Linked DNA regions of Homo sapiens: region 2 is linked to region 1. Evidence: fine-mapped expression QTL. A gene starts in region 1. The other region holds a variant in brackets. All regions are shown on one strand. Distances are from middle to middle.

What was found. PIP is the estimated chance that this variant, and not a neighbour inherited with it, causes the effect. A credible set is the group of variants that fine-mapping cannot tell apart.
Region 2: its variant is the best candidate, but not a certain one, in a credible set for the expression of EGFL6 in lung (TOPMed, PIP 0.89).

The regions. Positions count from the first base shown.
Region 1 is chrX:13,566,862-13,572,244 of GRCh38, forward strand. It overlaps EGFL6 (EGF like domain multiple 6), which reads left to right and starts at 2,740. Exons shown (of 12, transcript NM_015507.4): 1 at 2,740-3,074. The coding sequence starts at 3,001.
Region 2 is chrX:13,594,416-13,599,798 of GRCh38, forward strand. EGFL6 (EGF like domain multiple 6) reads left to right here. Exons shown (of 12, transcript NM_015507.4): 3 at 421-513. It also overlaps the pseudogene RN7SKP20. Among named protein-coding and RNA genes, the nearest start is that of MIR6086, 6.8 kb to the left of the region's middle. The variant A/G (reference allele first, on the strand shown) is at 2,584.

The DNA.
Region 1 (5,383 bases):
AAAAGGCACGGACGATTTTATGAGATTCTGATCAAAGATTGTTTTTTCTCTGTAGAATGATGAAGTAGGGTCCCCTAAAGATCAGTTTCCAGGTTCCTCTTCAAAGTCAGCAACACCAGTGCAGTTACTAAAAACAACTGCCTCCATGTGGCAATTTGTATCCAACATCTTCTCACCTGGCAACACATCATTTGCAGGTTCCTTCTCTGTTGCTCATATTATGTGACAGCTCTTTTGTTCACAGCTCCCCCAGGAAATAATAGGTGGGTTGGCTGGGGAGTGTTTGACCTCCCCCAAAGTTTCCTGTTGTAATGTCCATTACCTCCTTTAAGCCTACAAAAGAGAATTCAGCTGACAAAGAAAAAGCACAAAGCATCAAAATACTGAAACTAAAGCTAGAAAGTTACAGATAATGTCAATGCAAGATGTTATTCTGACTTTGTAACTCAGGACTAAGAAGGCAGATAGCCCTCACATTTTAGACTAATCATGTTTAGTTAGGACTTTTTTGAGTAATGGTTTATTTGGAGGAGGGAGTGATTAGTATCCAAATGTTAAGGGAGAAGTGGCATGGGCAAAAATCCATAATTTTTAATTCGATTCAAGTTCCAGATATTAGGTAGCTGCCAATGTCATGCCACTACCCGTATCCCCTCAGGCCTTACATTTCAGTAGGACCTTCAACAGTCAGTATCACTAGCCATTTGCCTGAGGGCTTTCTTTGGCTGTAAGCCCCACTCTGTCTTCAGCACAGAAGACTGAGTTCTAGGATCAGTACCACAGTTGAAGCTTTCAGGTAATGAGTGAATGGAAGTGGTGTATAAATACCCAGTTCCCTTGCCTTTTAGGTAAAATCATTTGGAGATGCTTGTTCTATGCTGGCTCTGGGAGATCCCCAGCAGCATGAACCTCCAGTTGCTCACAATGATAACTTAATATATGCCTGATATTGTCTTCTTTCCCAACTCATTTCCTCACTCACCTACCCATGTTCTCTGTACCTCCAGAATAAACTACTTTTACTTGAATCCTTGCCTCAGGGCCTGCTTGTGGGGAAACCCACAACAAGACAAATTTTATATTCCATTTTCTTTAAGATCCTCACAGGTATAGAGTTCATAACTTATATTATTTTCTTTTAGTTTTAATATTTCAGTAAATAAAATAAGTTATGGTATGAAGAGTTCAAAGTGTTTTGATGACAACCTTGAAGAGCTCATCTTATTACCTTATTCATGATACTCATCTGACATGTGAATCTGCCAATACGTGAGAAGATGAGAAAAGAGATTGATATAACAGCAGCAGAGCCCAATGGGGAAAAGCCCTGGTTTCCAGTTCTGGTTCTATACTTGTTAGCTGTATGACCTTGGTCGGGCAAGCTGCTTAACCTCTCCGACTCAGTTTCTTGACACTTCAAACATGGGGGAACTAATGGTCTCCATCCACAGGCTTGTGGATGTTCAATCAGATAACATATGTGTTTAGGACAAGGTCTGACACTATTAATTACGAGCAGCTCAATGGTCTAACTAGTTACCCAAGAATACTGAATCCATGGGGATACCTTCAACTGTAAAATAGAAGTCCCAACTAAACATGGCTTGCACCAATAAGAACATCTATTACAATGTAAAGCAAGATTCTGCAGCAAGAATCTCCCCCCTCCCTACTTCTCACATTTCATTGGCCAGAATTAAGGCATATGCCTATAAAACCATGAATCAAGCTTCCAATCAAGATAAACCTCCTCTTTCTCTGTATCCTTTTTCATTTCATTTCTCACACTGGGCCACTGTGTGTCAGAGGACTATCACAATAAGCCTCAGTAGATTGGCTGGTGCCGGGCAACCTTAGCTGAGCTCATTCATATACGTGTGGATTGGGTAATATACATGAGGCTCCACCGAGTAGCTCTGCTTCAAGCTATAGATCTGCAGGTTGACGAGGTAGCTTTTTCACCTGTTTCTCATTCGCCTTGGACCACCAGGCTAGGTGGTGCAAGGTCTTCTCATGTCCATGATAGAGGGTCAGGTGTGTTAAGACCTAGGCTTGGAACTGGAACACTGCAACTTTTCTGCCCTTAAACCATTGATCAAACAAGTCACACGGCCAAGTCCAAAGCCAAGGTGTGGGGTCATAGTGTCTGCCTACCATGAAGCCAAAGGGTGTGGACGTAGGAAGGACAGAAAGGGATCAGTCATTCATTCTAATGTAACACGTTGTCAGAACAAAGAATGTGTCAGTACCCAAATGGATCTGAATTCATATAGCATTCATGTTTCTGCCATGAATTTCTGCACTGGTTACTATATTGGGATGTCATCTGGGGTCCCATGTAAGTAAGCTGTTGCAAATGGGCCTGAGAGATTACTTGCCAAATGACAGGGTTGCCCAGGACTTAGTGACCTTCCAGCTCTAGCATCCCATTATTTGCAGTTTGTAGAAGAAAACCGGGAGAACGTGAAAACCCAAAGAGAAGTGAGGGATCATGTCTTAGGAACCTGCATCCTTCCATCCTGCTTCGACTTCTCAACTAAATTCTTAAGTCCTGGAGTGCAGGTATCACCGAAATTTGCCCCATGCCTGAAATACATGGTAGTAGATGGTGACTCTGACAAGCGTGAAGTGACCTGAATCTGGGGGAAGTTTCTGGGTGAACAGAGAGCGCGGAGGATGCGCGGGTCATGCTGGAGGCGGGTCCCAGCCAGATGTGCACAGCCCGCCCCGCCCTCCCTCGCTCACCCCGTCCAGCTTCATCCGCAGAGGAGCCTCGGCCAGGCTTGCCAGGGCGCCCCCAGCCCCTCCCCAGGCCGCGAGCGCCCCTGCCGCGGTGCCTGGCCTCCCCTCCCAGACTGCAGGGACAGCACCCGGTAACTGCGAGTGGAGCGGAGGACCCGAGCGGCTGAGGAGAGAGGAGGCGGCGGCTTAGCTGCTACGGGGTCCGGCCGGCGCCCTCCCGAGGGGGGCTCAGGAGGAGGAAGGAGGACCCGTGCGAGAATGCCTCTGCCCTGGAGCCTTGCGCTCCCGCTGCTGCTCTCCTGGGTGGCAGGTGGTTTCGGGAACGCGGCCAGGTGAGTGTCTGACTGGCGATTGGCTTCCCCCCACCCCCGGCCTGAGGTCCCGCTTTGGGGCCCCATGTCTTTGCAGGCACCCCCGCGTGTATGGGTGTGAGTGTGCACGTGTGCCTGTGCGCGCTGCGACGGGATTTAACCTGGATACCAGGCCGGGAGCGCCCACGGGCTTTCCTCCCTGCTCTCCTGTGGCGGGGCTTTGCACCTAGTTAGCTCCTTTTGCATCAGCTGTGCCCCACCTGGCTGCGTCCGGAGGGTTGCAGGAGGAGGGAGGCTCTGCACGCAGACCCGTGGGTGCGTGCGGGCTTGATGGTCTGCAGACCTGCTGTAGGGGCAGGTGTGTGAGGGTTGGTATGCGTGTCGGTGGGTGGGTTCTGTGTCTGTGCGGTTTTGTGTTTTCCACTCTATTCACAGGACACCAAGTGCTTGTCAGTCGCTAGTTTTGCTGGGGAAGGAGGGAAAGAAACCGAGGACGATAAAGCATTTACTGTTCTTGAGCTGAGCCAGCCGGGCTGCTCTCCTCACTGCTCTCTGATTAGGGTTGATGAACTGGAAAGAAAGGACACGGTTGTCAGATGACAACCATTCTCATTCTTGCTATGGCAATGCAGACTCTGAAGCCGTTCCCTACTGCCCTTAAGCTTAGCTGAGACCTGAAATATTTTTTCCAGAGATCGGCAAAGACGCTTAGTAAATGCACGCTTACATGGTGACTGTCGACCTGGCACTGTTCTAAGCACTTCAGGACTATTAACCTACCCAAAGCCATAATGGCTCTGTGTGTAAGGTACTATTATCATCATCTCCGTGTTGTAGAAGAGAAAAACGAGGCACAGAGAGGTAAAGTAATTTGCCTGAGGAAGCATAGCCAGTAAGAGATGGAGCCAGGGTGCAAACCTAGGTATTCTGGCCCAAAGTCTGTTCTTCACCAGGGCACTAGGGCAGCCTTCCGGCAACGGAAGAGGTTTTCTGGTTCTCTAACTGTGATGTCTTGCTTTCTACTTAGGTGTCCACTAGAATATGGTTTTTCCACCGCAGCATTATTGACCTTTCGGGCTGGGCTGGATAATTATTTGTTGGGGTGATGGGCTGCCCTGTGCATTGTAGGATGTTTAGCAGCACCTGTGGCCTCTACTCACTAGATACTAGTAGCAACCTTGACCCCACCCCACCCCCCACCACCACCACCACCACCAAGTTGTGGCAACAAAAAAAAGGTTTGGGATATTGCCCAAGGTCCCTGGAGGGCACAATTGCTCCTAGCGGAGACTGCTGAACTATAGAAATTTTTCAGTGATGATTCCTGAGGAGAGTAGGATAAGAGCTTTGGTTTGGTACAGGCTTCTCGAAGGTTTGCCTATCTTTGTTTGACTTACAGGAAAAAATATTTCATCAGAGTTAGCCATGGTATTAAAGGATTTCGAAGTTAAAACAGAACAAACCTCAAACCAGGTTCTTAGAATGTATGATCGCAAGTTTCAATTTCCTTTTCATGATAAAAATGTAAGCAGATGCAATTTGCTCATAATCACATTTTCCTTGAATGCTAGAGGTTCTTGCGTTGCTAGAAAGCCCACTTAAAAAAGACCAAATGCTGTTTGGAGATGAGATTAATAGTTCTTTAGCGGCCAGCAAACTGACCTCCAGGAGCTTCACTTTCAAAGTGCCACCAAATTAAATTAAAAGCCAAAAGCCCCTGGATAAACCAAAGCATATTAAACTGGAGAATCCATGTCAGGATTCTGCAATTCTGCAGTTTTCAAGATGTGAACCATGGTTTCTTTAGACGATTATCAAGTTTATGAGCTGGTGTGTTTATTATTTGCTCAATGTGCTTGGAAATGTCAAGTGGTCAGCTCTTCAGGAATGTCCAGGACCCATGTTTAATCAGCTCTAGATTCCACATTATGGATAAGACACTGTTACAGAGAAGGCAAGGCACCCATTGCAGAAAACTGTGTCTACTGGTTATTTCCTGGGGTTTCACAACTTATAGGAAAAACTGTGGCTGCTGTATAGAGATTTCCAGTATAAGCATCAGTTCTTTTTAATTGAAACACTGCACTATGATTTTATAACCTAGAAAATTATGTGCTTCTTAAATGGTATTTAGTGCATAGTACACAATTAACGCTCATCAAATGAATAAATCATTAGCTCCATGCATGTACCTGCCCTTAAGCTTCAGAATTTGGCTTGCCTTATATTTTTTATGTCCTTTGGGTATTGGAACTATTTAGATACCCTAGACCTGTCCAATACAGCAAAGATGGTAACCAGGAGCCCCAAGTGGCTATTGAATACCTGAA
Region 2 (5,383 bases), 28 kb after region 1:
CCTCCAATCTGTTGGTTGTTCAGTCTGACTGATAATGTGCAGCATTAAAAGATTTTGATCATTTAAAAGAGAAATGGAGAAAATATGGAGGAGATGAAACGAGGCAAGAGACAGAAGGAAGGGGAATGACGTTGGCATTTGCCCAGGGTTACTCTGGAGTCTCTTCCAGTTCCAACATTATACTTATTTTATTAAATCTTTTGTGTTTGCATGCAAAACTGGCTGACTGTGGTCTGGAAGGCTTTATATTTCATTGAATACCACTGGAAGTGTGGTATTGCCTCCCTTCAAAGGGAGGCAGATTGTCCTCTGTATGTCCCCATGGAGTTCTCTGCCACACAGAACGCAGCGAAGTTTTGCGTGCATTTCACTACACTAACTACTGTTCTTTTATCATCAAGACATCTTTTCCTTCCACAGCTACATGCGAACCTGGATGTAAGTTTGGTGAGTGCGTGGGACCAAACAAATGCAGATGCTTTCCAGGATACACCGGGAAAACCTGCAGTCAAGGTCAGTAAGGTAGCCCAGGGTCATAGTTCAAATTCAATCATTGCAGCAGGGCTGGCGACTCAATATGGTACGCAGGATTTCTTAGGGTTTTTTTAAAGTCAAATCTTCAAATGAAGGTGCTTTCAGGACAAGTTTTTCAATCTCTTCTCCTTGAAAAATGTAAAAAGTCTGATGTTTTTGTCAAGATGCCCAATAAAAGGCCTTTTTTCTTTTCTTTTCTTTTTTTATCTTTTTTAAATAAGCTAAAGGTCTTTTATATTTTTTACTTTTTTATTTCATCTCTTTCCGTAACACAGAAAAAAAGAGCCTTTTTAAAAAGTAAATAATTTTATTGCTTTTTAAACTACCTATGTATTATAAGTATATTTTTATTTTTAAAAATCCAGCAGTGCAAAAAAATATAAACTTAAAAGTGAGAGTGATCACCACTAGTTTTTACTATAAGCATAGTTAAGTTTGTCTTAGATCCTGGAAGTCTTTTTCTGTGATAGTATAAATGTAAGTTTTTCTCATAGGCATCTTTGCATGTCAGCACACACAGAACTACTTTACATTTTTTAAGGCTGTATCCTAGTCCCTAGTGTGAATACTTTTATCCTTTGTGCAAAAATGTGCTTTATTTAACCATTATCATTTATGTTGTCTCCAATTTTTTGCCATTACAAACAGTGCTAAATCTAACATTGTTCTCTGCATAGCCCTGCTTTCTTGAATGAATATTTTTGTAGGAAAAATATTTAAAAGTGGAATTGTTGGGTTGAACAACGTGCATATTTTTATTATACTTCATATACTTTTTTTTTTTTTTTGAGACAGAGTCTCGCTCTGTCACCCAGGGTAGAGTGCAGTGGCGTGATCATGGCTCACTGCAGCCTCAGCCACCTGGGCTCTAGCAATCCTCCCATCTCAGCCTTCTGAGTAGCAGGGACCACAGGCACACACCACCATGCCTGGCTACTTTTTACAGTTTTTGTATAGACGAGGTCCCACTACGTTGCCCAGGCTGGTCTTGAACTCCTGGGCTCAAGCCATCCTCCCGCCTTGCCCTCCCAAAGTGCTGGAATTAAAGGCTTAGCCACCACACCTGGCCTTGATATATCATAACAGATAATTTATAACTTTCATCCTAGATTGTTTGTCTGAAAACATTAAAGAGATGATAATATCTATAACAGTGGTTCTCAACCTGGGTAATTTTGTCTCCCAGGAAGCGTTGCCAGATAAAATACAGATACCAAGTTAGATTTAAATTTCAGATAAACAACAAATAATTTTATAGTATATGTTTGTTCAAAATAGTATATAGGGGATGTGAGGGTGATCTGGCTGTGACATCTGTCACCCCATTGCTCACCTGGGTTGATTTGGCTGATCTGGCTGGCTAGGCAGATGTCCCCTTCCTCCCTCACTGCTCCATGTGTGTCCCTCCTGAAGCTGCGCGCTCGTGTGGAGAGGACGACCATCCCCGATAGAGGAGGACTTACCTTCAGTCAAGGGTATATTAGCTGTGCTCCCCTGCTAGCACCTCCAAACAAGCTCTCAAAATAGTATATGAGAAGTGTGTATACTTTAAAAGTATTAGTCATTTATCTGACATTCAAATTTATCTGAGAATCCTTTACTGTTTTGTTTAGAGATGGGGGTCTCACTATGTTGCCTAGGCTGGAGTGCAGTGACTATACTGCATCCATGATCTCCTGGCCTCAAAGCAATCCTCTCGCCTCAGACTCCTGACTACAGGCACACACCACCACACCCAGCTGGAATCTTGTATTTTTATTTGCCAAATCTGGGAGCCTTATCCCGGGCAACATCTGGCAGTGTCTGAGGACATTTGGAGGGGGTGCTACTGGTGTCTAATGGGTAGAGATCAGGGATGCTGCAAAGCACCTTACACAATGCACAGGATAGCAGCACCCACAACAAAGAATGATCAGACCCAAATGTCAGTAGTGCCAAGGCTGAAAAACCCTGCTGTAAACGTGGTGAATAAAAGTGCCTCATTGGAGCAAGGGATATGGTCTTTGCTATAGATCAGCAGATTTCAACTTGGCTGATTTTGTCATCCAC[A/G]GGATACTTGACAATGACTGGGGACAATTTTGGTTGTCATAACTGGATGTGGGAGGTACTCCCGGCATCTAGTGAATGGAGCCCAGGGATGCCGCTAAACATCCTGCAGTGCACAGGACAGTCCCCACAACAAATAATGATTTGTGTCAACGGAAGTTAAGAAACCCTGGCATGAAGAAATCTTCAATAATTCAGAAAGGGTCCCCAGTCCTATAAGGAAGTTGAACAAAGAGCAGTAAATCCAATTCAGCTGCCCTTGGAGAATGGAGTTTCAGAGAAGACTGGACACCCACTCCACTCTACCACTCCCAGCCCTTGCTGCCAAGCCCAGAGGTTAGCCCCATAAACTGAAATAGCCGCTCTTTGAGCTGCCAGCCCTACAGTCTCGGAGAGCAATCTGGCTCTCTGCGTCCTGCCACCAGCATAGAGGCCAGAGCCCTGGAGATGTTTCTTAGAATTGCATGCAATTGCTTGAGAGAGGTGCTTCAAGAATCGTGCATTCAGGGTGGGCACAGTGGCTCACACCTGTAATTCCGGCACTTAGGGAGGTCGAGGTGGGTGGATCACTTGAGGTCAAGAGTTTGAGACCAGCCTGGCCAACATGGCAAAACCCCATCTCTACTAAAAATACAAAAATTAGCCAGGCGTGGTGGCGAATGCCTGTAATCCTAGCTACTCGGGAGGCTGAGGCAGGAGAATCACATGAACCTGGGAGGTGGAGGTTGCAGTGAGCTGAGATCGCGCCACTGCACTGCAGCCTGGGCAACAGAGCGAGACTCCATCTCAGAAAAAAAAATCATGCTTTCATAAGTAATAATTCAGCTATACCCTTCACCAGAGGTTTTACAGCAGAAAACTTGGTTTTCCATATGTTTTGGATTCTGAACCAAGATACTGTCTCAAGAGATTTGGAATAGAGACAATATTTTCCACGCTAGTTTTAAAGTCTCAGCAAAATATTAACGTTGAGGGAGTGGTCCAGTTGGATCAAGTTTTGAGGCAGTCTGTTTTCTTCCCACAGCCTCCCTGCCCTGTGGCAGCCTGATCAAAGTCCACGTACATCCATTAATGGTGACAGGCCTCAGCCCTCAACTCATGTCTTTCCCAAAACACTCTTCCAAGAAATGAGTGAGTCACCTCAGAGTTAGGGCCAAGCTATGGGATATTCCTGGGTTTCCCGTTATGTCCAATCAGCATTTTTCAATTTCCCCATTTGAAGAGGTTAGGTTCTATGAGGGAGATGGTAGGGTAAAGGGGATAGGCAGTGGAGAAGAGGGTTTCAAATGTCCAGCTAGGGCACTGGAAAATCCCCATATAAGGATATTTTCAGAGATGAAAGCAGCTCCTTATTTTCAAGAATCTGTTACCATGCTGACCTTTTGCCTTCCATGGAATTTGTTTGTTTTTTTCCTCTCTGTATGTTCCCTGGTAGAGTTAAGATATGAAACCCTCACATGACCACATTTCCAAAGGCGACATCCTCTACAGATAATCCTTTTTAAAGTTCTATTTTCCTTCTGTGTCATTTTTTATTTTAATAAAAATGTTACTTATTCTTAAGTTGTTGTTGTTGTTGTTGTTGTTGTTGTTGTTTTAGAAAACAAAAAAGCACAGAGAAGAAAGTCACCCTCGATCTTACCACCTGAAGATAACCATTAGTCGCATTTAGAGCATACCCTCCTAGGCTTTTCTTTTCCTATGTATTTTTTAAACCAATTTTGGAATGATCTGTACACAGAGTTTTGTAACCTTCTTTTATCACGTAACATCCTGTGAACGTCATATGTATATATTTCATATATATATAATTCACATATATATAATTCATATATATATTTCATATATATAATTCACATATATAATTCATATATATTTCATATATATAATTCACATATATATAATTCATATATATATTTCATATATATAATTCACATATATATAATTCATATATATATATATATTTTTTTAAATCATCCAGCCCAAATGTCATCCTGTGAACATCTTTACTTAGGATTAAATATTGTCCTCCAACTTCACCACTAAGAGCTGTCTGACAGGGCTCCCTCTAGAGGAATGTGAGCCAAGGCAATTTGGCCAGTGCAGGGGCCAGCCAAAATAATAATCGACAGGAGGCTGTGCTGTCAGCTTATGTCAGCGGCTGCTTGGGATAGCATGAAAGGCAGAAATATATAAATTATCTATTTCTAAATTATTGTTCAAGTAGTATACACATAGAATTGTGCATATATAAAAAATGTATGGCTCGATGAATTTTTCTAAATGCCCATGTCACTAGTATCTAGATCAAAAGCCAGAAACTTGGCCCTTCAGAAGACTCCCTCACACACCTTCCAGTCACTTCCACTGCCAGTGAGAGAACCATATGTTGACCTCTTATATCACAGATTAGCTGTGCTTATTTTTTAACTGTATATAAATGGACTCATACAGTATATACACGTTTATATCCAGCTTCCACTCAATATCATGTTTGTGAGATTCATCCATTGTTGCCTATAGTTGTCGTTTGTTCAGTTTCATTGCTATATAGTATTCCATTGTGTGAATATACAAGTCATTTATCTATTCTTCTGTTGGGAGGTGTTTGGATTACTTCTAGTTTGGGGCTATCTAGTATCATGCTATTATGAGCATTTTAGTATGTAGGGGAAATCCCAGGACTGGAATTTCCAGGTCATGAGTATGTCTAAATATAGCTCTAGTAGATTCTGCCAAGCAGTTTTCCAAAGTGTTGTACCAATTTACATTCCTTCCAGTGGTGTATAATTATTCCATTTGC